Linked DNA regions of Homo sapiens. The protein of the gene in region 1 purifies or fractionates together with the protein of each later gene. This does not show direct contact. Each region holds a gene or a part of one and is shown on either strand. Other genes may lie near its edges. The genes, in order: APOBEC3D, SLTM, ZC3H11A, KIF23, ATXN2, LARP1 and YTHDC1.

Region 1 (3,500 bases):
GTGTAGCTAACATATTACTTCAACGCTGATTAACATAAAATTCTTCGCGAGATAGTGAAGTTTCTTTTTCTTCTCACACTGAAATGAGTGGTGTATTTTTGATGTGCCGAGGTCTCTCATCAGAGCCCTGTTTCAGATGCTCAGTAGCGCCCTTGGCCAGTGCCCCCCAATATGGGACAGCGCAGGTCCAGTGGCCTCCCCAGTGGGGAACAAGGCGGACCCCAGAGGGCCAGGACACAGTAGGGGCTGAGGATGCCTGGTGAATGGATGCCTGGGAGAATGGATGCCAGAATTCACACACGAGGCCATGAACAGGGCTGGGAAAACTTCCAAACACAGGGAAGCACGTGTCTTGGTGCACCTTGTGATGCTTCAACAGCAGGACTGAGACGGGGACATTTACAGTGAACAGAAATGTGTTGGCTCGAGTTCTGGACTCCAGGAAGTCCAACGTCAAGGCACCAGCAACTTTCCAGGGCCTGCGAGCTGCACAGTCACATGGGGGTGAAGGTTGTTGCCAGAAGCTCAGGGGATGCTCCAGACAGAGTGGCCTGGGATGTCGAGTCACTGGTGCTCCGTGACATGGGGACAAGAGGAAGCAGTTTAGTCTGACATACTGCCCCCCCAGCTAGAGGGCAAGAGACAGAAAGAGGGGCTGAGGTCACCTTTGAATAACCACAGCAGTGGCACCCACAAAGGTGCAGTCCCCACAGCCTCATAGCCTCTTCTAGGTGCCACCTCTTAAGGCCAGTACCATAGCAATTAACACTGAAGGTCAGCTTGGAGCAGACAATCACTCAAACCAAACAGGGGGGATGGAGGAAAGGAGCTTCAATGGCAAGATCCCCTGGGCTCCTGTCCTGGCCCCTCCTCCCCCTGCCCCACCCCGCACCCCTCCTGTTCCCCCGTCCCAGAGCTTCCCCTGCCCCTGCTCCTCTCCCAGGTGTATTTCCGGTTTGAGAACCACGCAGAAATGTGCTTCTTATCTTGGTTCTGTGGCAACCGACTGCCTGCTAACAGGCGCTTCCAGATCACCTGGTTTGTATCATGGAACCCCTGCCTGCCCTGTGTGGTGAAGGTGACCAAATTCTTGGCTGAGCACCCCAATGTCACCCTGACCATCTCTGCCGCCCGCCTCTACTACTACCGGGATAGAGATTGGCGGTGGGTGCTCCTCAGGCTGCATAAGGCAGGGGCCCGTGTGAAGATCATGGACTATGAAGGTGAGAGGTGCAGGGGTCAGGGGAGCATGACGGGGAGGAACAGCCTCAGAGATGGATGGATCTGCAATGCCATGGCTGGGGGTGTTCCAGGGCAGCCTGCAGGGGTGGGGCTGGCACTGATTGCAACTGACAGCCAGGAGACCAGGCCTGGGAGGGCAGGCCCAGGGTCAGGGGAGAGCCTGAGTGCTTCCCACCTCTTCATCTCAGACTTTGCATACTGCTGGGAAAACTTTGTGTGCAATGAAGGTCAGCCATTCATGCCTTGGTACAAATTCGATGACAATTATGCATCCCTGCACCGCACGCTAAAGGAGATTCTCAGGTGAGGGTCTCCCTCTGGCCTCATCGTCTCTCTCCTCTCGCCTCCTGCTCATCCTCCTGAGGACTCCCCTGGCTGGGCCCTCCTGCCCTCCGTCCTGCCCCCCTGCCTGCCCTCATGGTTACACCCCCTCACCCACACTCCTCATGCTCCCTCCACCTTGGTGCCTCCCCCCTGCTTTCCTGGGCTCTTCCTGTGAGTGAGAGGCCCCTTCTGCCTCCAGAGCGACCTCCATCCACCCCCGAGGCTGCCCTCCCCACAGCCTGGGAGCCCCAACCTGGCTCCTTCTATCTCCCTGGCATAACCGAATTTGTCATAAAACTGGACGTAGTAAGTGGGCATGAATAGTCACAAGCCCGACAGTCGGAAGCTTTGAGCAACATCCTTCAAGGCCGACCTGAGCCCCTGAGAAGGAGCCGCCACCATGGAAACAGAGCTTCAGGCTTCCGCGGCCATAGAAGATGCCCCCGGGCCGGGTGCCCACAGGGCAGGCATTTATTTTCTCACAGATCTGGAGGCTGCAAGTCCAAGGTGGAGGGGTGGGTGGGGTTGTGTCCTCTGTGGCCGCTCCTCCTGGCTGGCAGGGGGTCCCTTCCAGCCCTGTCCTCTCTGGCCTTTCCTCTGTGCACCTGCACTCCTGGGGTCTCTCTGCCTCTAAATGTCCTCCTTGTTTATGGACCCCAGTCAGACAGGATTAGGGCCCACCCTAAGGGCCATGAGTTAATTTAATCACCACTTTAGTGTACTTGTCTCCAAATACAGTTATCCTGTGAGGAGGTGGGGTTGAGGGCTTCGACATGTCAATGTAGGGAAGATACAATTTAGCCCATGACAATGACCCAGGGGGCTTGGGTCAAGCTTGGGTGGGGTGTGCAGGGGTCCCCGTTCTGTGTGTCTGTCTCCCAGGCGAGTCCTGCCCTGACTCCCACAGCCCCTCCCTCCAGACCATGGCTTCCCCACCTAACAGCACCTAGCTGGGCCTCCGGCTCACGCCTGTCCCTTCTCAAATCCCTCCCACAGGGATGGAGATGCAGAAAGAGTCAAGCAAACACTCAGTGATCAAGGTCCCATTTGAGTAAGGTTTTTTTGTTTTTTTTTTTTTGAGACAGCGTCTCCCTCTGTTGCCCAGGCTGGAGTGCTGTGGTGCGATCTCGGCTCACTGCAACCTCTGCCTCCCGGTTCTAGCAATTCCCTTGTCTCAGCCTCCCAAGTACCTGGGATTACAGGCTCATGCCACCATGCCGGCTAATTTTTGTATTTTTAGTAGAGACGGGGTTTTGCAATGTTGGCCAGGTGTTGAGTAAGATTTTACAAAAGAGTAGGCTTGGATCATGGGAGGCTTGAGATGCTAGGAGCTCTCCAGGAAGCACAACAGAAAAGGGCAACCAGGGACCAGAGAGGCCCTAGAAAGAGATCTAAGGCCCTCGGGAGAGATGGGAACTGAGCACCTGGGTCTTAGACCGGAGGAGCAAACTGCAAGACAGGGTGGCCGGGGACACCAGCCTCCGCCCTTCTGTGACATAGGGACAAGAGCTCAGCCTGCCAGGGAACAACTCTGGGCAGGAGATGTGGAAGGAAGGAGCTCAGTGTGGGGGCACGCATGGCATCCTGGGGGGACATCTGAGGGCACCCCCACCCACTATTCCTCCCTCCAATGGTGGCCTCTGAGTGTGAAGGCAAGGGGGAAGCAGACACCTGCCCCTCACTCTCCCTCCCTACCACATAGCTACCGGGTGGGGGGCGTCCCTGGGATGATTCCTGAGGGCAGGATCCAGGGGTCCCTCCGGAGGTCCTCCCATCCAGGTGAGAAAGCAGCATAAAGTGAGGCCTGCACTCAGATGGGCCTGGGAGGTCACTCACAGCGCAGGTGTCTCCTGGAACAAGGGCCCTGGACGATAGAAATAGAACCCAAGCCCAGGACTAAAATCAGGGCCAGGACAAGCCTGCCAGGGAGGCTA
Region 2 (3,500 bases), on another chromosome or scaffold:
ACTAAATAGTTTCACCTCTTTTGTCCTACAGGGAATCTAGCAACTGCCGCAAAACTGTGAAAGTGGCATGACCAGGATAAAGGAACTAACTGAAAGTGTAAGGCAGATTGAAGCCAAACCTTTTTTTTTTTTTTTTTTTTTTTTTTGGAGACACTGTCTCGCTCTTCTTGCCCAGGCTGGAGTGCAGTGCAGAGGCGCTATCTTGGCTCACTGCAACCTCTGCCTTCCGAGTTCAAGCAATTCTCCTGACTCAGCCTCCTGAGTAGCTGGGATTATAGCCTCATGCCACCACACCCAGCTAATTTTTGTATTTTTAATAGAGACAGGGTTTCATCATGTTGGCCAGGCTGGTCTCGAACTCCTGGCCTCAAGTGATCCACCGGCCTCGGCCTCCCAAGGTGCTGGGATTAGAGGCGTGAGCCACCACGCCTGGCCTGAAGCCAAACTTTTACGCTTTGAGGAAAAAACTACAAAATAAATTGGGCAGTAAACATAATCTGAATAACAAAATAAAAAATGAAAGCAAGATTAACCTATCACATCCTAAACTATCATAGTAGTAACATAGCTATTTTGAAATGACAAAAACAAAATCTAAAATATAACTTGCATGATTTGAGGGCCTAAAGTAAAATGGCAAAGTAAAAACGTATATACCAGAGAAAGACAAGACTATAAACATTTATGTAGCATAAATTTGTATAAGCCCAAAAATTCTTAATGAAACCCTCTGAGATATGTTTCAGAATTCACAATTTTCAGATTTTAGAAGAGTAAAACGTTGCATATACTATTTATTAAGTTAAACCTCCCAGTGGCTTCTGGAACAGTATTTCACAATCACAGAAACATTTTGTGCAATGAAATGTAAGCAGATTCACATCAAATGGGATAAGTCAAGACTATAAATAACTTTTGCCACCAAACTTAAGAAGAAACTTTCAGTTTTCAGAACTTTTTGTATTTGAGAATTCTGAGGATTTTGGATGATAAATTGGCTTTCTCCTCCAAAGGCAAATTGGTCTTTATAAGGGTTTGCAATTTTCCTTTTCCTCCAAAGGCAAACTAGTCCCTATAATGGTTTGCAATTTTCCTTTTTAAGTTCAGAAATACCTCCCAAACAAAAACAAATCCCACTTAATAATTAGTTTCTTTTCTTTGAGACAAGGTCTTGCTCTATCGCCCAGGGTGGAGTGCAGGGGCAGTCATGGTTCACTGCAGCCTCAACCACCTGGGTCCAAGCAATCTTCCTGCCTTGGCCTCCCAAAGTGCTGGGATTACAGGCGTGAGCCACTGCTCCCAGCCTAAGGAAATTTTAAAATCATTTTGCCAAAATACTTTATGGCTGAGTAACTTTTCCCCTTAAACATTCACAAGAGCTACGATAAAATGTTAAAAAAAAAAAAAAAAAAAGCTTAGTTATAAAATTTCTGTTGCAAGGGAGGGGAAGATTAAGAAGATATGCCAAACTGAAATGTTTCCAGCAACAACCTCTTCCCAATTGCATGGAGTATCTTAATCACAGGCCATGCCTTGTATTGTTTGCAAGTGTTTTAGCTTCTCTTCTATTAAACTGACATTTTACTAACAAAATCATTTTTCTGAAAGGCCTTGCACATTGTCTTAAACACAACAGTCATACAATAGGTCACTCTGAGTTTTTTGTTTCTGTTTTTGTGGCAGGGTCTTACTCTATTGCCCAGGCTGGAGTGCAGTGGCACAATCTCAGCTCAGTGCAACCTCTGCATCCTGGGTTCAAGTGACTCTCCTGCCTCAGCCTCCTGAGTAGCTAAGGTTACACGTGCCCAACACCATGCCCAGCTAGTTTTTGTATTTTTAGTAGAGATGGGGTTTCACCATGTTGGCCATGCTGGTCTCGAACTCCTGACCTCAAGTGATCCACCCGCCTCCACCTCCCAAAGTGCTGGGTTTACAAGAGTGAGCCATCCCACCTGGCCCAATAGGTCACTTTGAAAAATTACTACAAAGATAATTCACATTCATTATAATAAACCTAGAATATGCCAAAGGTATATTTTTCAAATATCTTACATTAATTATCTAAAGATGAACAGAATAAACAATTCCGGCACACTCCTTCAGGCAGGTGTGCCTACAAACACAAGACTGTCAAAGGTAATTTAACTGGGTTCTTAATGAATTACCTTTCTATTCTACCAGTAAAAAGAAAATAGTCCTGCTTAACTCTCAGCACCGTTGTGAGAATCAAATAAAGCAATGTAGAAGTTTTCCGAAAACTGAAAAGTATATAAAATAATCTAGAAACTGACCAGCAGAGAGATGAATAAAAATGATGCTAAATTTCAAGCTTTAGTTTAGATTAGTTAGTTCTTAACTTCAGGTGTATGTAAGAATCACCTGGGGAGCTTTTAGAAAATACATACTGATGCCTGGGCCCCCAACATAACAACCCAAACCAACTCTATGGGGAGTGAAAGCCTGCTATCTGTATTTTTTAAAATTCAAATGACTAACGCAGAGTGCAGATCATGAGCCACTAAGACAAGTGAATCTATTTACAGAAGCTGTTGAGAAGAATATAGACGGAAGGTTATTGTTTTTTGATTCTCCAGACTACAGAAATATTTAAGTTCTATCTACCTTCAACAAAACACCATGTATGGTGTGAATCTATTTTAGTTGTTGAAAAGGGGGGAAAAAACCTTTAAACATAAACCTCCTGTAAGTACTTGCACATACACCTACACAACTTAGATCAACATGTGTTGTAATATGAAATGTGCTTTATGTGGTTGATTACTATATTAGATTAACTTTTAGAAAGCTTTACAGAGTAAACATGTACTTAATTATAAACATGTATATATATCATATGTAAAATGCTACATATGATAAATTCAGGGTGGTGGGATTACGGGTAATCTTCACTTTTTTGTACTTTTCTGGATTACCTTTTTTTTTTTTTTTCTTTGAGTCAGGGTCTTGTTCTGTCACCCAGGCTGGAGTGCAGCAGCACCATTTCGGCTCACTGCAACCTCCTCCTCCCAAGTTCAAGTGATTCTCCTGCCTGAGCCTCCAGAGTAGCTGGGATTACAGAACATGCTACCACACCTGGCTAATTTTTGTATTTTTAGTAGAGAGGGGGTTTCACCATGTTGGCCAGGCTAGTCTCGAACTCCTGACCTTGTGATCCACCCACCTCGGCCTCCCAAAGTGCTGAGATTATAGGTGTGAGCCACCGCGCCTGGCCAAATGTATGTTTTAATGGCTGCGATAAAAGGGCTAATTTTGTGAAATGAAAATGACATATACAACCTCTGAGGTTGGACAGTATTCCAGCAAGGTTCAGAGGCTTTTCAACACAGCATCAATGTGGTAAAGAATAAAAGGATGATGCAATGATTCATGTGTTCTAAAAGTAAGTATATTTTACATATCAATGTGTAAGGAGAAGCCATTATGCTCTTGAGAGAGGCACCTTTAAAAAAAAGATAAAAACTATTAATCCCTGATATACC
Region 3 (3,500 bases), on another chromosome or scaffold:
TATTTATTTATTTATTTTATTTATTTTTGAGACAGAGTTTTGCTCTTGTTGCCCAGGCTGGAGTTAAATGGCAAGGTCTCAGCTCACTGCAACCTCCACCTCCTGGGTTCAAGCAATTCCCCTGCCTCAGCCTACCGAGTAGCTAGAATTACAGGCGTACGCCACCATGCCTTGCTAATATTTGTATTTTTAGTAGAGACGGGGTTTCACCATGTTGGTCAGGCTGGTCTCAAACTCCTGACCTTAGGTGATCCACCTGCCTCAGCCTCCCAAAATCCTGGGATTACAGGCACGAGCCACCGCACCCGGCTAAATAGTAGGAAATTAGAAACAACTTAAATATACAATAAAAAGGGTTTAGATAAAATTATGATAGTTATGTGCTAAAATAATTGCTGTCATGAAAAGTCAAATGCTGAACAACGATATGGAAAAATCAACTTGCATTGTATCAAGTGAAGAAAGATAACAGAGAGCACATACCACTTTTGACCTCCTGATTTAGGGCAACATAAGAATCTTTTTTTTTTTTTTATTTTTTTTTTTAGTATTTATTGATCATTCTTGGGTGTTTCTCGGAGAGGGGGATTGGCAGGGTCATAGGACAACAGTGGAGGGAAGGTCAGCAGATAAACATGTGAACAAGGGTCTGTGGTTTTCCTAGACAGAGGACCCTGCGGCCTTCTGCAGTGTTTGTGTCCCTGGGTACTTGAGATTAGGGAGTGGTGATGACTCTTAACGAGCATGCTGCCTTCAAGCATCTGTTTAACAAAGCACATCTTGCACCGCCCTTAATCAATTTAACCCTGTGTGGACACAGCACATGTTTCAGAGAGCACGGGGTTGGGAGTAAAGTTATAGATTAACAGCATCCCAAGGCAGAAGAATTTTTCTTAGTACAGAACAAAATGGAGTCTCCCATGTCTACTTCTTTCTACACAGACACAGTAACAATCTGATCTCTCTTTCTTTTCCCCACATTTCCCCGTTTTCTATTCGACAAAACCGCCTTTGTCATCATGGCCCGTTCTCAATGAGCTGTTGGGTACACCTCCCAGACGGGGTGGTGGCTGGGCAGAGGGGCTCCTCACTTCCCAGATAGGGCGGCCGGGCAGAGGCGCCCCCCACCTCCCAGACGGGGCAGTGGCCGGGTGGAGGCGCCCCCCACCTCCCTCCCGGACGGGGCGGCTGCCGGGCGGAGGGGCTCCTCACTTCGCAGACGGGGCGGCTGCCGGGCGGAGGGGCTCCTCACTTCTCAGACGGGGCGGCCGGGCAGAGACGCTCCTCACCTCCCAGATGGGGTGGCGGTCGGGCAGAGACACTCCTCAGTTCCCAGACGGGGCCGCGGCTGGGCAGAGGGGCTCCTCACATCCCAGACGGGGCGGCAGGGCAGAGGCGCTCCCCACATCTCAGACGATGGGCGGCCGGGCAGAGACACTCCTCACTTCCTAGACGGGATGGCGGCTGGGAAGAGGCGCTCCTCACTTCCCAGACTGGGCGGCTGGGCGGAAGGGCTCCTCACATCCCAGACGATGGGCGGCCAGGCAGAGACGCTCCTCACTTCCCAGACGGGGTGGCGGCCGGGCAGAGGCTGCAATCTCAGCACTTTGGGAGGCAAGGCAGGCGGCTGGGAGGTGGAGGTTGTAGCAAGCCGAGATCACGCCACTGCACTCCAGCCTGGGCAACATTGAGCACTGAGTGAGCGAGACTCCGTCTGCAATCCCGGCACCTCGGGAGGCTGAGGCAGGCAGATCACTCGCGGTCAGGAGCTGGAGACCAGCCCGGCCAACACGGCGAAACCCCGTCTCCACCAAAACATGCAAACACCAGTCAAGTGTGGCGGCGCGCGCCTGCAATCCCAGGCACTCTGCAGGCTGAGGCAGGAGAATCAGGCAGGGAGGTTGCAGTGAGCCGAGATGGCAGCAGTACAGTCCAGCCTTGGCTTTCACAACTTTGGTGGCATCAGAGGGAGACCGGGGAGAGGGGGAGGGGGAGGGGGAATCTTTTTTTTTTTTTTTTAAGTTTATTTTCTTATTATAGAAACTTATTCTCAGGAGAAACATGCATATGTATGAGATTATTCTAATTTTGTAAAGATATAAACATATACCTTTAAAAAAATCTTCAAAAATACACGAGAATATAAATAAAATTGGTGTCATCTGGGTATTGAGGTTTTCTTTATATTCTTTCTGTGTTATAATTTTTAAATTTTTTAAATTATGAAATATAACTACATAAGTATATATATGTACAGTTTAAGGAATAATAAAATGAACATCCATGTATTCAGCCTTCCGTCTTTTTTTTTTTAATACCTTGCTGAATTCAGTTTGAGGCTTTTAAAAATTTTATATTTTTACATCTCTATTTATGAATGCTGTTAGCCACCTTAGGTTACTTTTTATCCCCCATCCTTATCTCATTTGGATGTTAAAGTTATATTAGCATCATAAAAAGGGAGTCCGATGTTGGACATTCTTATTCTGTTGTATGCAACCTGAATTATTCAGAGATTTCTAGGGTTTTATCTCTCCCTAGTATGCTGCAGGTTCACTGTTGTGGATCAAACATGGATCATTTTTGTTCATTCTGCTAAATCAGTATTTATGATAATCAGTATTTATCATAAATACTGATTCAGTAAATACATAAATACTGATTCAGTGGGCCCTTGAATCTAAAGATTTGTCTTTAGCTCTAGAAAACATTAATTTCTTTTGAGTATGACTGCCCCACATTTCTTTTTGTTTTCTCCTTGTGAAATTTGTATTAGATAGATGTTGGAACTTTGGGACATATGCCTGCATGTCTCTGTATACTTTTTGTTTCTTTGTTTTTGGCTAACCTTCTGTGAGCTTTGTTCAACTTTATTTTTTAGACAAGGAATTGACAATTTTTTTCCTGTAAAGGGTCGGATATAAATAACTTTGCAGTCCACAGTATTGCAGCTACCCCACTCTGCCATTGTAGAATGAAAGCAGCCATATGCATATGTATGCAATATGTAAATGAATGACTGCTGGTGTGTTCTAGCAAAACTTCATTTACAAAATTAGGTGGTGGCCATATGGGCTATATATAGTTTGCCTATGCCTTTTTAAATGGCTGATTTGGGGCCAGCCTTATCTTTATTATCCAGTCCTTCATATGAATTTATTTTGGCACTTGGTGTTTTTATTTTTCAAGAACTTTCTTTGTTCTCTTATTTTTTTTTCTTTATTCTCGGCCTGGGATTTCTTCTTTTTTTTTGAGATGGAGTTTCGCTCTTGTTGCCCAGTCTGGAGTGCAATGGTGCGATCTCGGCTCACTGCAACCTCTGCCTCCCAGGTTCAAGTGATTCTCCTGCCTCACCCTTCCGAGTAGCTGGGATTACAGGCATGCGCTACCACGCCCGGCTAATTTTGTATTTTTAGTAGAAACGGGGCTTCTCCATGTTGGTCAGGCTGGTCTCGAACTCCCGACCTCAGATGATCTGCCCACTTTGGCCTCCCAAAGTG
Region 4 (3,500 bases), on another chromosome or scaffold:
GGACAGAAATTGGAAATAGAACGACTGGAAAAGAAAAACAAAACTTTAGAATATAAGGTTTGTTTTGACATTATTATGATAGATGTATGTGCTGGTGTTTTAGCACTGTTCTCTGAGGGAGATATTGTGCTCCAACGGCCTGTAAATGCTGCTTATTAAGAGTTCTCGGTTGAGTGCGGTGGCTCATGCAGGTAATTCCAACACTTTGGGAGGCTGAGGTGGCCAGATCATCTGAGGTCAGGAGTTCAAGAACGAGCCTGGCCAACATGGCAAAAGCCCATCTCTACTAAAAAAGTACAAAAGTTAGCTGGGCGTGGTGGCGAGTGCCTGTAATCCCAGCTACTCAGGAGGCTGAGGCAGGAGAATCGCTTGAACTGGGGAGGTGGAGGTTGCAGTGAGCCGAGATTGAGCCACTGCACTCCAGCCTGGGCGACAAGAGCAAGACTCTGTCTCAAAAAAAAAAAGAGTTCTCAGGCTGAGTGCGGGGGCTCATGCCTGTAGTCTCAGCACATTGGGAGGCCAAGGCAGGGAGATCACTTGAGCCCAGGAGTTCCAGACCAGACCGGGCAACGTGGCGAAACCCCATATCTACAAAAAAAATTAGCCAGGCATGGTGGTACATGTCTGTAGTCCCAGCTACTCGGAAGGCTGAGATGGGAGAACAGCTTGAGCCTGGGAGGTTGAGGCTGCAGTGAGCTGGGATTGCACGACTGCACTCCAGCCTAGGTGACAGAGCGAGAGCCTGTCTCAAAAAAAAAAAAAAAGTTCTCAATTGGTTGTTTACTAATCCTCATCCCATGCTAAGGAGGAAATGTGAGTGAAATGAAGAATCATATGTTCTTTAATTTTATGAGAGTTTTAACAGTTGAAAAGGATGTTCTCTGACCCAAACAAGGGAGCTTTCTAGAGCTTAGCTTTGGTTGTAGCTTGCTTTTGAATTTATTAGAAATATTTCCTTAGTATGCTTTTTTTTTTTAATGAGATAAATGATTAAATGAAATGGTATAAAAGTGCCAGCATCGGGCCTTGGACGTAACAGATACTCAGTAAAGCTTAATTGGATCTGTATTTGGTTTACAAATCGATTGTAAAAGTATAAACTCAGGATTAATCTCTTACAATGGGGTAGAAGGAAATACCGTTTTGTTGGGAAGCATTGCAGCACTGTGTAATGTATGTCTGTTCTCTCATTTACAGAGGGTCATTTAGAGGTTTGGTGGGGGTACACATTCATAAGAGAAGTTAGTCTCAACCAATATAGTTTTTTTAAATTCTGAAAATAGCCTAAAAACTAAATTTTAGCCCTTAATTTTAGGAGAAAGTAATTTTCACATGAAGTTAGTTGTAAATGTCTTTGGGTGAGGAGCTTGTTTAACATGTTTTCATTTCTGAGAATGGGGGTGGGAATTCAGATGAAATGTTAGAGAAAAAAGTGCTTTCTCCATGATGTTTCTTTCCACAAATATGCTTGCATAAGCAAATTAAGGAAGACTATTTTATAGCGACATGAAATGTTTATATACCAAATATTGAACATAGTGGTCTACCTTCCTAGATTGAGATTTTAGAGAAAACAACTACTATCTATGAGGAAGATAAACGCAATTTGCAACAGGAACTTGAAACTCAGAACCAGAAACTTCAGCGACAGTTTTCTGACAAACGCAGATTAGAAGCCAGGTTGCAAGGCATGGTGACAGAAACGACAATGAAGTGGGAGAAAGAATGTGTGAGTATCGTTTGGGTAGTGCTTGTCTCAGAGTCGGATGATTTATTTTACATTGTAGTTAGGTTCGATATTTTGAATTATTGTATTTGCGGTAGGGTTTTGGTGGTGGTTGTTAACTCTCAGGAAGAATTGGAGAACTGTCATTTTTAGGAAATAAAGAGATTGGGTAATCTGGTGTACTCGTTTGCTGTGATGGAATGATAATATACATTGCCACTGATAATCTGTAGGAGCGTAGAGTGGCAGCCAAACAGCTGGAGATGCAGAATAAACTCTGGGTTAAAGATGAAAAGCTGAAACAACTGAAGGCTATTGTTACCGAACCTAAAACTGAGAAGCCAGAGAGACCCTCTCGGGAGCGAGATCGAGAAAAAGTTACTCAAAGATCTGTTTCTCCATCACCTGTGCCTGTAAGTTATTTGTAATTGTGTAGTAACTTTGTACTAGAGAAATTTTGTTCAGATTAGATGACTATTTCTATGAGGATTTTTACATTTTATAATACTTACATTTCTGAAATTTCTCTAAAAATATTTTAAAATTTAGAATAAACACAAATTTAGCACAAAAAAATAGAACAAATAATTATTTGTAATGTTAAGTCTTCATGTGCTAACATTATAGAAAAGTAATGAATTGTTTCTCTCAGTTTTTCAGTCTTGCTCATTAATTTTTCTCCAATTTTTCTAGCTTTCTAGTAACTATATTGCTCAGATTTCCAACGGCCAGCAACTCATGAGCCAGCCACAGCTACATAGGCGCTCTAACTCTTGCAGCAGCATTTCTGTAGCTTCCTGTATTTCGGAATGGGAGCAGAAAATTCCTACGTACAACACACCTCTCAAAGTCACATCTATTGCAAGGCGTAGGCAGCAGGAGCCAGGACAAAGCAAAACTTGTATCGTGTCAGACAGAAGGCGAGGGATGTACTGGACTGAAGGCAGGGAGGTGGTTCCTACATTCAGAAATGAGATAGAAATAGAAGAGGATCATTGCGGCAGGGTTAGTGCCAGTATTATTTTAACGCATTGTAGCAATAGATTTTATCTTCTTTGTTTTTTGTAACTTGTGTCTGAAAGTTCATTGGAAAAATGGTTGGGCTATAGTATAAAGAAGGTCTAATTTCTCAGTTAATTTGAAAGATTGACTTACGGAAATTGAGGCCTGGCTCCTCATCTGAAAAAGCCTAAACACATCTGGCAGCGGAAGTGTGTTCAGTGAACACAGGTCAGTTTGGTGCATCCCAGAGTAGTCTGAGCTTTTCAGCTGCATACGCTAATAAGCTTTGCACAGAATTGGTGAATGTGTCTTAAAGCATACTTTCCATATTTTTCTTTTGGTTCCCCTTCCCCAAATTAGATTTTTTATACCTCCTTTCATGCCCTAGTTTTAAAAATTGTTTTCCCAAATTTTTATTTTGAAAAATTTCAGACCCAAAGCAAAGTAGAAAGAATAGTATGGTAATGTCTTTCCCTCCTTGCCTAAGTTTACCAATTGTTACTTGATATAGATATGTAAACCTTTTTCCCCTAAGCCTTGTGAAAGGAAATCACAGACTTAGAGACACTTAATCTCTAAGAATAAGGACATTGTACTACCTAGCCACAATCTTTATCACATCCAAGAAAATCAACATTAATTAATTATCCTCTATTGAGACATTGTGCAGTTGTCCCAAAATTGGATTGGCTTTTCTTTTTTTTTTTTTAAAGACAGAGTCTCACTCTGTCACCCAGGATGGAGTGCAGTGGCATGATTATGGCTCACTGCA
Region 5 (3,500 bases), on another chromosome or scaffold:
ACCCCAGAGGACTTTACCCACGGTGGTGGGGCTTACCAAAATTAAGATTCTTTTGGTTTTTTTTGGCAGAGTTTCGCTCTTATTGCCCAGGCTGGAGTATAGTGACGCAATCTCAGCTCACCACAACCTCCGCCTCCCGGGTTCAAATAATTCTCCTACCTCAGCCTCCTGAGTAGCTGGGATTACCGGCATGCGCTACCACCTCTGGCTAATTTTTTTGTTTTTTAGTAGAGATGAGGTTTCTCCATGTTGGTCAGGCTGGTCTTGAACTCCCGACCTCAGGTTATCCGTCCGCCTCGGCCTCCCAAAGTGCTGGGATTACAGACCATAGTGCCCAGCCCGAAATTCAGATTCTAATCACTGGGATGGACAATTCCCCTCTGACTAGGGCTAGTCTAAATACTCCCTCTGTGGGTGCTGGCTGAATTCTGTCCTATGCTGCTTTCCACTGTGACAGGGCAGCACTGAGTTTCAATGCAAAATCCCACAGTCATTTCTCTCTCTCTCCCCCGAGCACACAGATTCTTTCTCCACCCCACACTGCATTGTGGGGGAATGTCAGGGGTGTTGGAGGGGCAGTTCAAGACTATCTTCCTTATCTTTTTTGGTGTCTTTTTCCTTGATAGGATGTCAAAACTGGGTACTGTGATCGCTTACCTAATTTTTGGTTCTTATGAAGGTGCTTTCTTGTGTGGATAGTTGTTCAATTTGGTGCTCCTTGTTGGGGATGATCACTGGAAGGTTCTGTTTGGCCACCATGCTCTGTCTCTTCTCCCCTGCCATCTCCTTTTTTTACTTAGGGGTTTAGAATGTCTAACTGACCAATATGTACAGTCAGGTCTCATTCTGAATTCACCTACTTAATGACCTTCCAAGCTGACTAGGCCCAGCGCTTAGTCCAGCCTCCATGACGGTCCCTCCACATCCTAATTAGCCTCCCTCCAGTTCATTTCACACAAAGCTGCTGTGTTCACCTTTCTGAACTATAAATCTGCCCAGTACTCTACCCTACTTAAAATTCCGTATAGACTGCCCATTTGCCCTGAGAATTAAAAGCCAAAGTCCTAAACGTAGCTTTTTAAAACTTTTTTTTTTTTTTTTTTAATTTTTAGATGGAGTCTTGCTCTGTCACCCAGGCTGGAGTGCAGTGGTGTGATCTTGGCTCACTGCAACCTCCGCCTCCTGGGTTCAAGCAATTCTCATATGTCAGCCTCCCAAGTAGCTGGGATTTACACGTGTGCCATCACGCCTGGCTAATTTTTTTTTTTTATCTTTAGTAGAGACGGAGTTTCACCATGTTGGCCAGTCTGGTCTTAAACTCCTGACCTCAAGTGATCCACCTGCCTTGGCTTCCCAAAGTGCTAGGATGATAGGTGTTAGCCACTGCACGCAGCCCTGAACATAGCTTTTAAGTTCCTTTATTGTCATATTCCTTTTGACGAGTCTATCATTTTCTGACTCACTTGTACATGTGTGTCTCACCCTTGGTCCAGCCATTGGTGCTTTTCTTTACTTCTTTATTTTTGTTATTTTATTTTATTTTATTATTATTTTTTAAATGAGACAGGGTATCACTATGTTGCCCAGGCTGGTCTTGAACTCCTGAGCTTAAGCAGTCTGCTTGTCTCAGCCTCCCAAAGGGCTGGAATTACAGTGATGAGCTACTGTGCCCAGCTCATTGGTGCTATCTTTTTTTTTTTTTTTGAGACGGAGTCTCGCTCTGTCACCCAGGCTGGAGTGCAGTGGCGTGATCTTGGCTCACTGCAGCTCCACTTCCCAGGTTCACACCATTCTCCTACCTCAGCCTCCCGAGTAGCAGGGACTATAGGCGCCTGCCACCATGCCTGGCTAATTTTTGTATTTTTAGTAGAGATGGGGTTTCAGCGTGTGAGCCAAGATGGTCTCGATCTCCTGACCTCGTGATCCGCCTGCCTTGGCCTCCCAAAGTGCTGGGATTACAGGCGTGAGCCACCGTGCCCGGCCCCCATTGGTGCTATTGTTTTATGTGATAGAGCCAGCTTCTCCCTTTTCTTTGGATTTTTAAACATACTCTTCCTTTTACTTAGACTATTCTCCATCCCAACACCTTTCCTAAACTTCTTTCACACCTTAGACTAGCTGACACTTTACTGAGAAACCTTTCTTTTTTATAGGTTGCTTTTTCTATAGACTCTCTTAGCATTTACTCATTTTATTGTGAAGTGTCTGATCTTATTTAAATGACAAGTATAAGAGGATAGAAACTATTTCATATTTTTCTCACCCAGCAGGCACAATTTCTGACATGTGGTAAGCACTCAGTAAATATTGAACTTTAGAGGCTAGGACATTTGAGTGCTTTGGTGACTGTGGTTGTGCTATATAGGTACTCTGTTATTGTTAGTTTATAGTAAAAGCATTACTCTTAAAGTATGAAAAAAGCCTTATTCAGAACATTTCATGCGTATAGTTAATATTACGTAGCTTGTGCTCATGGCAAAAATGTATTACTAAAGTTATTTAAGATATTTAAGTATAATTGTTTCCTTTATTTAGTTACAGCCAAGTTCTACTTCTGAATCTATGGATCAACTACTAAACAAAAATAGAGAGGGAGAAAAATCAAGAGATTTGATCAAAGACAAAATTGAACCAAGTGCTAAGGATTCTTTCATTGAAAATAGCAGCAGCAACTGTACCAGTGGCAGCAGCAAGCCGAATAGCCCCAGCATTTCCCCTTCAATACTTAGTAACACGGAGCACAAGAGGGGACCTGAGGTCACTTCCCAAGGGGTTCAGACTTCCAGCCCAGCATGTAAACAAGAGAAAGACGATAAGGAAGAGAAGAAAGACGCAGCTGAGTGAGTAAACCTGGAACTTAGACCATCCTGTTACTCAATTAACTTTTTTTTTTTTAAAGGCATTTAGGTCCTTCCAACTGTGAAGAATCCATCTGGACTTTTAGACTACTTTATACATTGCCCTTAGTTTACAAACAGCTAGTCCAAACAAATGACATCTTAAGTAAATGAGGTTATTGCACCCTGTGCTACTCTTCTGTTCTTCCCCTTTTTTGTACCCCAGGGCTAGAAAAACAAGGCATAAATTAAGAAAAGTTTTTCTGTAAATGAACAGGAGTTGAAAAATTATCAATTCAGGGGACCTATCTTTACTGGATTCCACTCATTAGTCACCCTCACTGTGCTGCTAGGTTGAAAAACTGCCACTGTCAAGGAGAGAAGCATGCGGTGCTTCTACTTGGAATTCAAAATATTTTTCATCAGAAACTGTGTTTTAGTTAATGTTTAGATTTGTTAAGATAGACTTAATTCTGCACATTCAGTATATTAATTAAATGGACTTTTAGGGGCTAACCTCAGAACTTAACTACCATTGACTTAGGTGTTTGGGTACCAAACAATCCAGTTAAAGCTGAAGTTTTGGAATGCAGCTTATTGATAAATTGGGGACTGCTTATTCTTGATTTGAGGCAATTTTTTTTTACAGCCATGACTTTTTCC
Region 6 (3,500 bases), on another chromosome or scaffold:
GGTTTCATAGGTGACCAGTGAGATTTGGTGGTTTGTTTTCGTATCATTTGTTATTATAAGCTTATGGGCTCAAACGTATTTATTTTGGTCCATTGCAGTTAATGGATTGGATCAAATTGTCCCACCTTTGGTCAGTGGGACCCTATACATTTCCTGCCCCAGATCTGGAATTGGCCACTTTTAAAAGGAATTCTAGTTCCTTTCTTTTGGGAAATGGTATTTAGATACCAGTCTGAGTTATAGGGGTGCTTTATTGCTACTTGGTTGGTCATTCTTTCTAGATGATTTTTTTGTTTTTTGGTGAGATAAAATACATCATGGAGTTATTCTGTTTTGTTGTTGTTGTTTTTTTTTTTTTTTTTTTTTTTTTTTTTGAGACAGAGTTTCACTCTTGTTGCCCAGGCTGGAGTGCAGTGGCATGGTCTCAGCTCACTGCAACCTCCACCTCCCAGGTTTAAGCAATTCTCCTGCCTCAGCCTTCCAAGTAGCTGGTATTACAGGCATGCACCACCACACCCAGCTAATTTTGTATTTCTAGTAGAGATGGGGTTTCACCATGTTGGCCAGGTTGGTCTCGAACTCCTGACCTCAGGTGATCCACCCACCTCGGCCTCCCAAAGTGGTGGGATTACAGGCATGAGCTACCGCGCCCGGCCTGTTCTGGTATTTTCTATTAAAGGGTCTTTACGTAGACTTGTGGATCTTTTATTTTACCTACTGCTTTCTTCCATGCCCATAATCTTAATTCCTAATGATACCAACATAATTACTCATTTTGTTTTATTTCACAGTATGTCTACCGTCTTTTTTTTTTTTTTTTAAACATTTTTTAAAGAGAGAGGGTCTTGCTCTCACAGGCTAGATTGCAGTGGTGTGATCATGGCTTACTGCAGCCTCAACCGCCTGAAATCAGGCAATCCTCTTGCCTCAGCCTCCTGAGTAGCAGGATTACAGGTGCACACCACGTGTGGCTAATTTTTAAATTTTTTGTAGAGATGAGGTCTTGCAGTGTTGCCCAGGCTGGTCTGAAATTCCTGGGCTTGAGCCATCCTCTCACTTCGGCTTCCAAAGTGTTGGGATTACAGGCGTGAGCCATTGTGCCAAGCTCTACATTCTTACAATACCTCCACTACCACTGAAAACAGTTTTTCCACTTATACAGTATCTTCAAGTCATTTGAAAGAATCTTTGTGTGGTTTCACATTTAAATTGATATATATATTAGTTTTATTTTGCTTCCAAGTTTTAGAGATTGCTTTCTCCCTACCCCTATAATTTTCTAAGTTGTTTTACATTTGTGTAAAACATTTACGTGGTTCTAGAGTCTCAGCATGGTATAGTCATAGAAGTCTGACTTAAATTCTGTCACTTACACCCTTTCTTCTCTTACAGGCAAACTTTTTAGAACCTTTCCATTTAAGAAAAAAGCAAATGCCTCTACATGTATTTGTATCCTTGGTAAATGGAAATATACAACACATGGCATTTCTTCAATTCTTTTTTGTTTTAACTTAATATATCTGGGAGCTAACTGCAAAGTAGCAGTATATAATAGAAAGATATTCCTCATTCCTGTGTACAGTTGCATAGTTCACCATTGTGTGGAATGCTCCATGTTTTTTCAACTGCTGCTCCTATAGATGGATGTTTTGGTTGTTTTTTTGAGACTAGGTCTTGCTCTTTTGCCCAGGCTGGAGTTAGTACAGTGGTGTTATCAAAGCTCACTGCAACCTCAACCATCTAGGCTCCCAAGTAGCTGGGACCACAGATGTATGCCAGCGCCACCTTTTTACGATTTGTAGTGATAGAGTCTCGCTATTTTGCTCAGGCTGGTCTTGAACTCCTTTGCTCAAGCGATCTACCCACCTTGACCTCCCAAAATGTTGGGATTACAGGTGTGAGCCACTGTACCCAGCCTGCTTTTTTGATTAATATTTTGTGGGTTTATCCACCTCAGCACATGTAAAGTTGGTTGTTTTTTTGTTTGTTTGTTTGTTTGTTTGTTTGAGACGGAGTCTCGCCCTGTCGCCCAGGCTGGAGTGCAGTGGCACCATCTCGGCTCACCACAACCTCCACCTCCTGGGTTCAAGCGATTCTCCTGCTTAACCTCTCGAATAGCTGGGACTATAGGCGTGTGCCACCACAACCAGCTAATTTTTGTATTTTTAGTAGAGATGGGGTTTCACCATGTTGGCCAGGATGGTCTCAATCTCTTGACCTTGTGATCTGCCTGCCTGGGGCTCCCAAAGTGCTAGGATTATAGACGTGAGCCACCAGGCCCGACCTGTAAAGTTTTTTAATGTCTGAGTAGTGTTCCATCATGCATATGCTGTAAATATTTAAATTGCCTATGCGATGGCAAGTTAGGTATTTTATAGTTCTTTTTCTACTCTAGTTTTACTGTGAATGGCTTTTTGTCCAGATATTATACATACTGCTCCCTGTTTGTGCAAGTGTTCTCTAGAGCAGATTACTGGAAGTAGGATTGCAGGCTCAAAGAGTAAAAGGGTAGGTGTATTTATTATGCTGGTACCTCCTACAAGTTTGAACATCTCACATTATCTACCAGTCGTGGAAGATGGTGTCAATTTTCTTATATTACTGGTAGCATTGGACTCATACCAAGCTCAGGGGAACCCAGTTGTCTACCATTTCCAAGATCTTTCTGTCCAAGATTTTCTTCTTAATCCCCTCTTCCTTCTCCTCCCCTTCAGGCCCTAAAGGACAGCAAGGTGGTGGAGATCGTTGATGAGAAAGTTCGTAGGAGGGAGGAACCAGAAAAGTGGCCTCTTCCCCCAATAGTGGATTATTCACAGACTGATTTCTCCCAGCTTCTCAACTGCCCTGAATTTGTTCCCCGTCAGCACTACCAAAAGGAGACAGGTAGGTACCTGCTGGCATGAAGATTGCCCTTGTCCTCTGGGCAACAGTCCTCCTCAGGGCTGGCATCAGGAGGAGGACTGGAGGGATGAGGACTTCCCCTTTCCACCCTTTAGAGTCGGCACCTGGCTCTCCTCGTGCAGTCACCCCAGTGCCAACCAAAACAGAGGAGGTCAGCAACCTAAAGACACTACCCAAGGGCCTGTCTGCCAGCCTGCCTGACCTGGATTCTGAGAACTGGATTGAAGTGAAGAAGAGGCCTCGGCCATCCCCAGCACGGCCCAAGGTGGGTGAGGCCTTGTCCCTTGCCTTGGTTCTAGCACTCTGAGCTAGGGTGCTTGAAGGGGATAACACATGGGCACAGCACTCTAGCTCTGAGGGGCCAGCAGGAAATCTGGGTAGTTCAGGATCATAGTGTGAGTTGAAGTTACCAGTAGTGGCTACAGAAAGGTTGATTTGGCTTGTTTCCATTTCCTGTGGGGAACCACCCTTTAGGGCGCCCTACTGTGTGAGTTCCTCGGTGACATTTTTCTTAAGGGATCATGCAGCATCTGGCAGCGATGTTTCTGGCTTCTTGATTCTTGGCTCTTCTTTTTGCTCCATCTAAATTTCTGGGGCTG
Region 7 (3,500 bases), on another chromosome or scaffold:
TAAGATTTAACTGTATTTATTAGAAAAATAATCAGGCTTATTTTGAACACTGAGTTGTCACTATTTTTAGGTCCTTACTGCACACTGAAGTATTGTACACAAGAAGCTCATTATTTAAGTGATCTTTACGTGGCATACACAAATGTATTACCTGTAAAATTAATTTTAGTTAAAAAGTGTCTGAAAGGAGATGGTTACTTTGTGAGTTTTAAGTTGTTTTTGGGTATTAGATCTTGATGAGCCTGAAGGGGTCGGATGAAAAAGAAGAAAAATGCTATGCATATGATGGAAATCAGCCTAAGCCAAGAAGAGCATGGAAACAAACTATGGGGTTGCAGGGTTGTGGGGAGCAGTGGGAGGGCATATGGATGTGTGAGTGGGATAGGGAGCTACCTTTTTTTATGAAGGAGATGGTTAGGAAAAGAGAAGAACAGAGGGCAAAGATGGATAAGAATGAATGAATGTGAGTCAGCCTAAATGTTTATTGTAGGATAGTGAGGAGCTGTGAAGATAGAGGGAGTGATATATTACAAATAGCATACAGTCACTTACTGTGTAGTGACATACCCATCAACAAAGAATCTTGTCCCATAAGACTGTAGGACTCGTAAGAGGTACCTATAATACCATATTTTACTATACCTTTTCTATGTTTAGATACACAAGTATTTTCCATTGTGTTACATTTACCTACACTATTCAATACAGTAACATGCTGTGCAGATTTGTAGGCTAGGAGAAACAGGTCATACCATATATCCTAGGTATGTAGTAGGCTATACCATTTAGGTTTGTGTAAGTGCATTCTGTGATGTTCACACAATGAAATCACCTAATGAGTGTATCCCTGTCATTAAGTGACACATAACTGTATTAGGTTGATAATAGCGTAGCAAAAAGCTATGTGCAGAAAAAATACTCATCCCATTATTACTTTCTGTGGGAAAGAGTTGGAAATCATCTAAATTCTTTGAAATAGAAAATTAGTTAAATTATAGTTTGTCTCTTAAATATATGTGGAAGTAATTGTGCACATATCAACATGGAAAGGTATAACAAATGAAAAAATACATAATTATGGTATTGGAATGCAGTGTTAGGTGGTGAGACTGTTAGTGCTTTCTCCCACTTCCTCTCTGTTGCCCCCAGGGGTTTTAAAATATAAACTTGGTTTTTTTGAAATCAAAATTATAATTAAGTTATAATTAAAGTTGAAAATCTGGTGACAATTTGTAGGAAAGGGAGTGATTATTTTTATTTTGTGTGTGTATGTGACTGCTCTGTAAAGGCCAGAGGAAACGTTGTAATGTAACATATTTGCAGGTGTTGCTTTCTTGGGAACAGGAGAGAAAATAATTGCCCATTTTTATGTGGGTTGCAGCAGATTTTGTTTCAAATGTTATTTGTTCTGTTAACCTTCATTTTTACATTACTGATAAGGAAATTCTTAATTTTAAGATGAATTTAATTTTTCATGGATTATTCATTCTTCATATTCCTCTTCATTGACTTATTGACTATTCTACTAATTTGTTTGAAATGTATCAAGCAACCGAAGAGGTAGACAGACTCAATTTGTCTATCCTACTAACGTGAGGTGTAAAATTGTGGGCAGTAAAGTGCTTTTATTATTTTAAAGTAAGTTTATGGGTTTACCTAGAAATAGTATTTTTACATAATAAAACTATAGTTTTAATGTTTTAATACTCAAGTTCTATTCAAGTGTAATTTTACAATACTTTACAGTTCTGGAGGGCTTGTGATATTTCTAACATTGATATTTCCTTAGATAAGTCACTTGAACTCTCTTGAGTTTAAATTCTCTCTATATAGTGAGAATTACATTTGAGTCTCAGAACATTTAAATTTAATAAATAGAAATGGTCAGGACTTTGCTATCAACAGTAACTGCTGTTAATATTTTTTTCTTTTGCAGATATAATAATTATTAGATTTATATTTAAGGACCCTTTGGATATAATAATAACTAGACTTAAGCTTTTTTAGGTGTGATCCCTGGATCACTTACATCAGTAGCATCTGACTGTTAAAATGCAGAATCTTGAAACCCACCTCAAACCTGTTAAATTCTTGATGGTTCAGGTAGTTGGTAGGCACATGGAAGATTGGGACCAGATAAGTGTCATGTTTTAGCTGATAAAGAGAGGGAGGCATAAAAAGCGACTTATTAAGGTTGCCACCTGTAATTAGCTCAAAATAAGGCATGATCTATGAAATACTATTCATCCAGAGTTACATTTACTGACTAGGTGTTATATTCCTTTCATGTCCATTCCAAACAACCCATTTCTGTTTTCATTTAGAGTCTCTCCATTTTTCTTTTCTTTTCTTTTGAGACGGAGTTTCGCTCTTGTTGCCCAGGCTAGAGTGCAATGGCGCAATCTCGGCTCACCACAACTTCCGCCTCCCGGGTTCAAGCGATTCTTCTGCCTCAGCCTCCCTAGTAGCTGGGATTACAGGCATGTGCCACCACGCCCGGCTAATTTTTTATTTTTAGTAGAGACGGGGTTTCTCCATGTTGGTTAGGCTGGTCTCGAACTCCCGACCTCAGGTGATCCGCCCGCCTCAGCCTCCCAAAGTGCTGGGATTACTACAGGCATGAGCCACTGCGCCCGGCCTCCATTTTTCTTTTTAACTTTAATCAACAAACCACTGTCCAGCATATAAGAGCCTCTGCATGGCTGGGCGCAGTGGTTCATGCCTGTAATCCCAGCACTTTGGGAGGCTGAGGTGGGTGCATCACTTGAGGCCAGGAGTTCGAGACTAGCATGGCCAACATGGTGAAACCCCGTCTCTACTAAAAATGCAAAAATTAGCCAGATGTGGTGGCGCATGCCTGTAGTCCCAGCTACATGGGAGGCTGAGGCATGAGAATCCCTTGAACTCAGGAGGCGGAGGTTGCAGCAAGCCGAGATCATGCAGCTGCACTCCAGTCTGGGTAACAGAGTGAGACTGTGTCTCAAAACAAAAAACTGTGCACAGTTTTACATTCTTTGTTAAATTTGCCCTATTTGCAGAACCACTTAGGTCAGAGAGTCCCTTACATGTTCTCAAAGAACTCACAGTAAAGATAAGTTGTATCTGTATGCTTCATAACATAGCTGCTCAGAAGGTAACTGTTAGGTTGCTTGTTCTATGATTGTGATCTGAGAAGAAAGGATAAAATAAGGATGCTACATGGATCACAGACCCTGCAATTTTTCTTAATTTATTCTGAGCCCTGTTTTGCCTCAGGCTTCACAGTTTTCTGTGATGTTCTGGCTGAGATTAACTGTGTTGAAACAGTGAACAGATGTCTCTTGAATCTAGTTGGAACCAGTGCCACCAAAGAATCTCAACCCCAAATGATACATTTAGCTTGGCCTATGCTTTTACTTCTACTTGGATCGTGGGTATTTAATTGCTGATATTTAAATAACAGTGATAATCCCATTAATTTATAACCTTCTTATATTTTGGTGGCTGTAGGTTTTCATTTA

The links.
Region 2: the proteins of APOBEC3D (region 1) and SLTM purify together in Homo sapiens (affinity purification with mass spectrometry; 2 studies listed by BioGRID and IntAct, with this or other methods). This does not show direct contact.
Region 3: the proteins of APOBEC3D (region 1) and ZC3H11A purify together in Homo sapiens (affinity purification with mass spectrometry; 2 studies listed by BioGRID and IntAct, with this or other methods). This does not show direct contact.
Region 4: the proteins of APOBEC3D (region 1) and KIF23 purify together in Homo sapiens (affinity purification with mass spectrometry; 2 studies listed by BioGRID and IntAct, with this or other methods). This does not show direct contact.
Region 5: the proteins of APOBEC3D (region 1) and ATXN2 purify together in Homo sapiens (affinity purification with mass spectrometry; 2 studies listed by BioGRID and IntAct, with this or other methods). This does not show direct contact.
Region 6: the proteins of APOBEC3D (region 1) and LARP1 purify together in Homo sapiens (affinity purification with mass spectrometry; 2 studies listed by BioGRID and IntAct, with this or other methods). This does not show direct contact.
Region 7: the proteins of APOBEC3D (region 1) and YTHDC1 purify together in Homo sapiens (affinity purification with mass spectrometry; 2 studies listed by BioGRID and IntAct, with this or other methods). This does not show direct contact.

What each region holds. Positions count from the first base shown.
Region 1 is NC_000022.11:39,024,127-39,027,626, forward strand, and holds part of APOBEC3D (DNA dC->dU-editing enzyme APOBEC-3D), read left to right. Parts: intron 1-943; coding exon 944-1,223; coding exon of another isoform or gene 1,224-1,430; coding exon 1,431-1,545; intron 1,546-3,500.
Region 2 is NC_000015.10:58,923,680-58,927,179, forward strand, and holds part of SLTM (SAFB-like transcription modulator), read right to left. Parts: intron 1-3,500. UniProt on the Homo sapiens protein: When overexpressed, acts as a general inhibitor of transcription that eventually leads to apoptosis.
Region 3 is NC_000001.11:203,840,623-203,844,122, forward strand, and holds part of ZC3H11A (zinc finger CCCH domain-containing protein 11A), read left to right. Parts: intron 1-3,500. UniProt on the Homo sapiens protein: Through its association with TREX complex components, may participate in the export and post-transcriptional coordination of selected mRNA transcripts, including those required to maintain the metabolic processes in embryonic cells.
Region 4 is NC_000015.10:69,438,349-69,441,848, forward strand, and holds part of KIF23 (kinesin-like protein KIF23), read left to right. Parts: coding exon 1-57; intron 58-1,555; coding exon 1,556-1,729; intron 1,730-1,959; coding exon 1,960-2,139; intron 2,140-2,419; coding exon 2,420-2,731; intron 2,732-3,500.
Region 5 is NC_000012.12:111,487,816-111,491,315, reverse strand, and holds part of ATXN2 (ataxin-2), read left to right. Parts: intron 1-2,535; coding exon 2,536-2,840; intron 2,841-3,500. UniProt on the Homo sapiens protein: Involved in EGFR trafficking, acting as negative regulator of endocytic EGFR internalization at the plasma membrane.
Region 6 is NC_000005.10:154,796,877-154,800,376, forward strand, and holds part of LARP1 (la-related protein 1), read left to right. Parts: intron 1-2,714; coding exon 2,715-2,883; intron 2,884-2,996; coding exon 2,997-3,166; intron 3,167-3,500. UniProt on the Homo sapiens protein: RNA-binding protein that regulates the translation of specific target mRNA species downstream of the mTORC1 complex, in function of growth signals and nutrient availability.
Region 7 is NC_000004.12:68,326,091-68,329,590, reverse strand, and holds part of YTHDC1 (YTH domain-containing protein 1), read left to right. Parts: intron 1-3,500. UniProt on the Homo sapiens protein: Regulator of alternative splicing that specifically recognizes and binds N6-methyladenosine (m6A)-containing RNAs.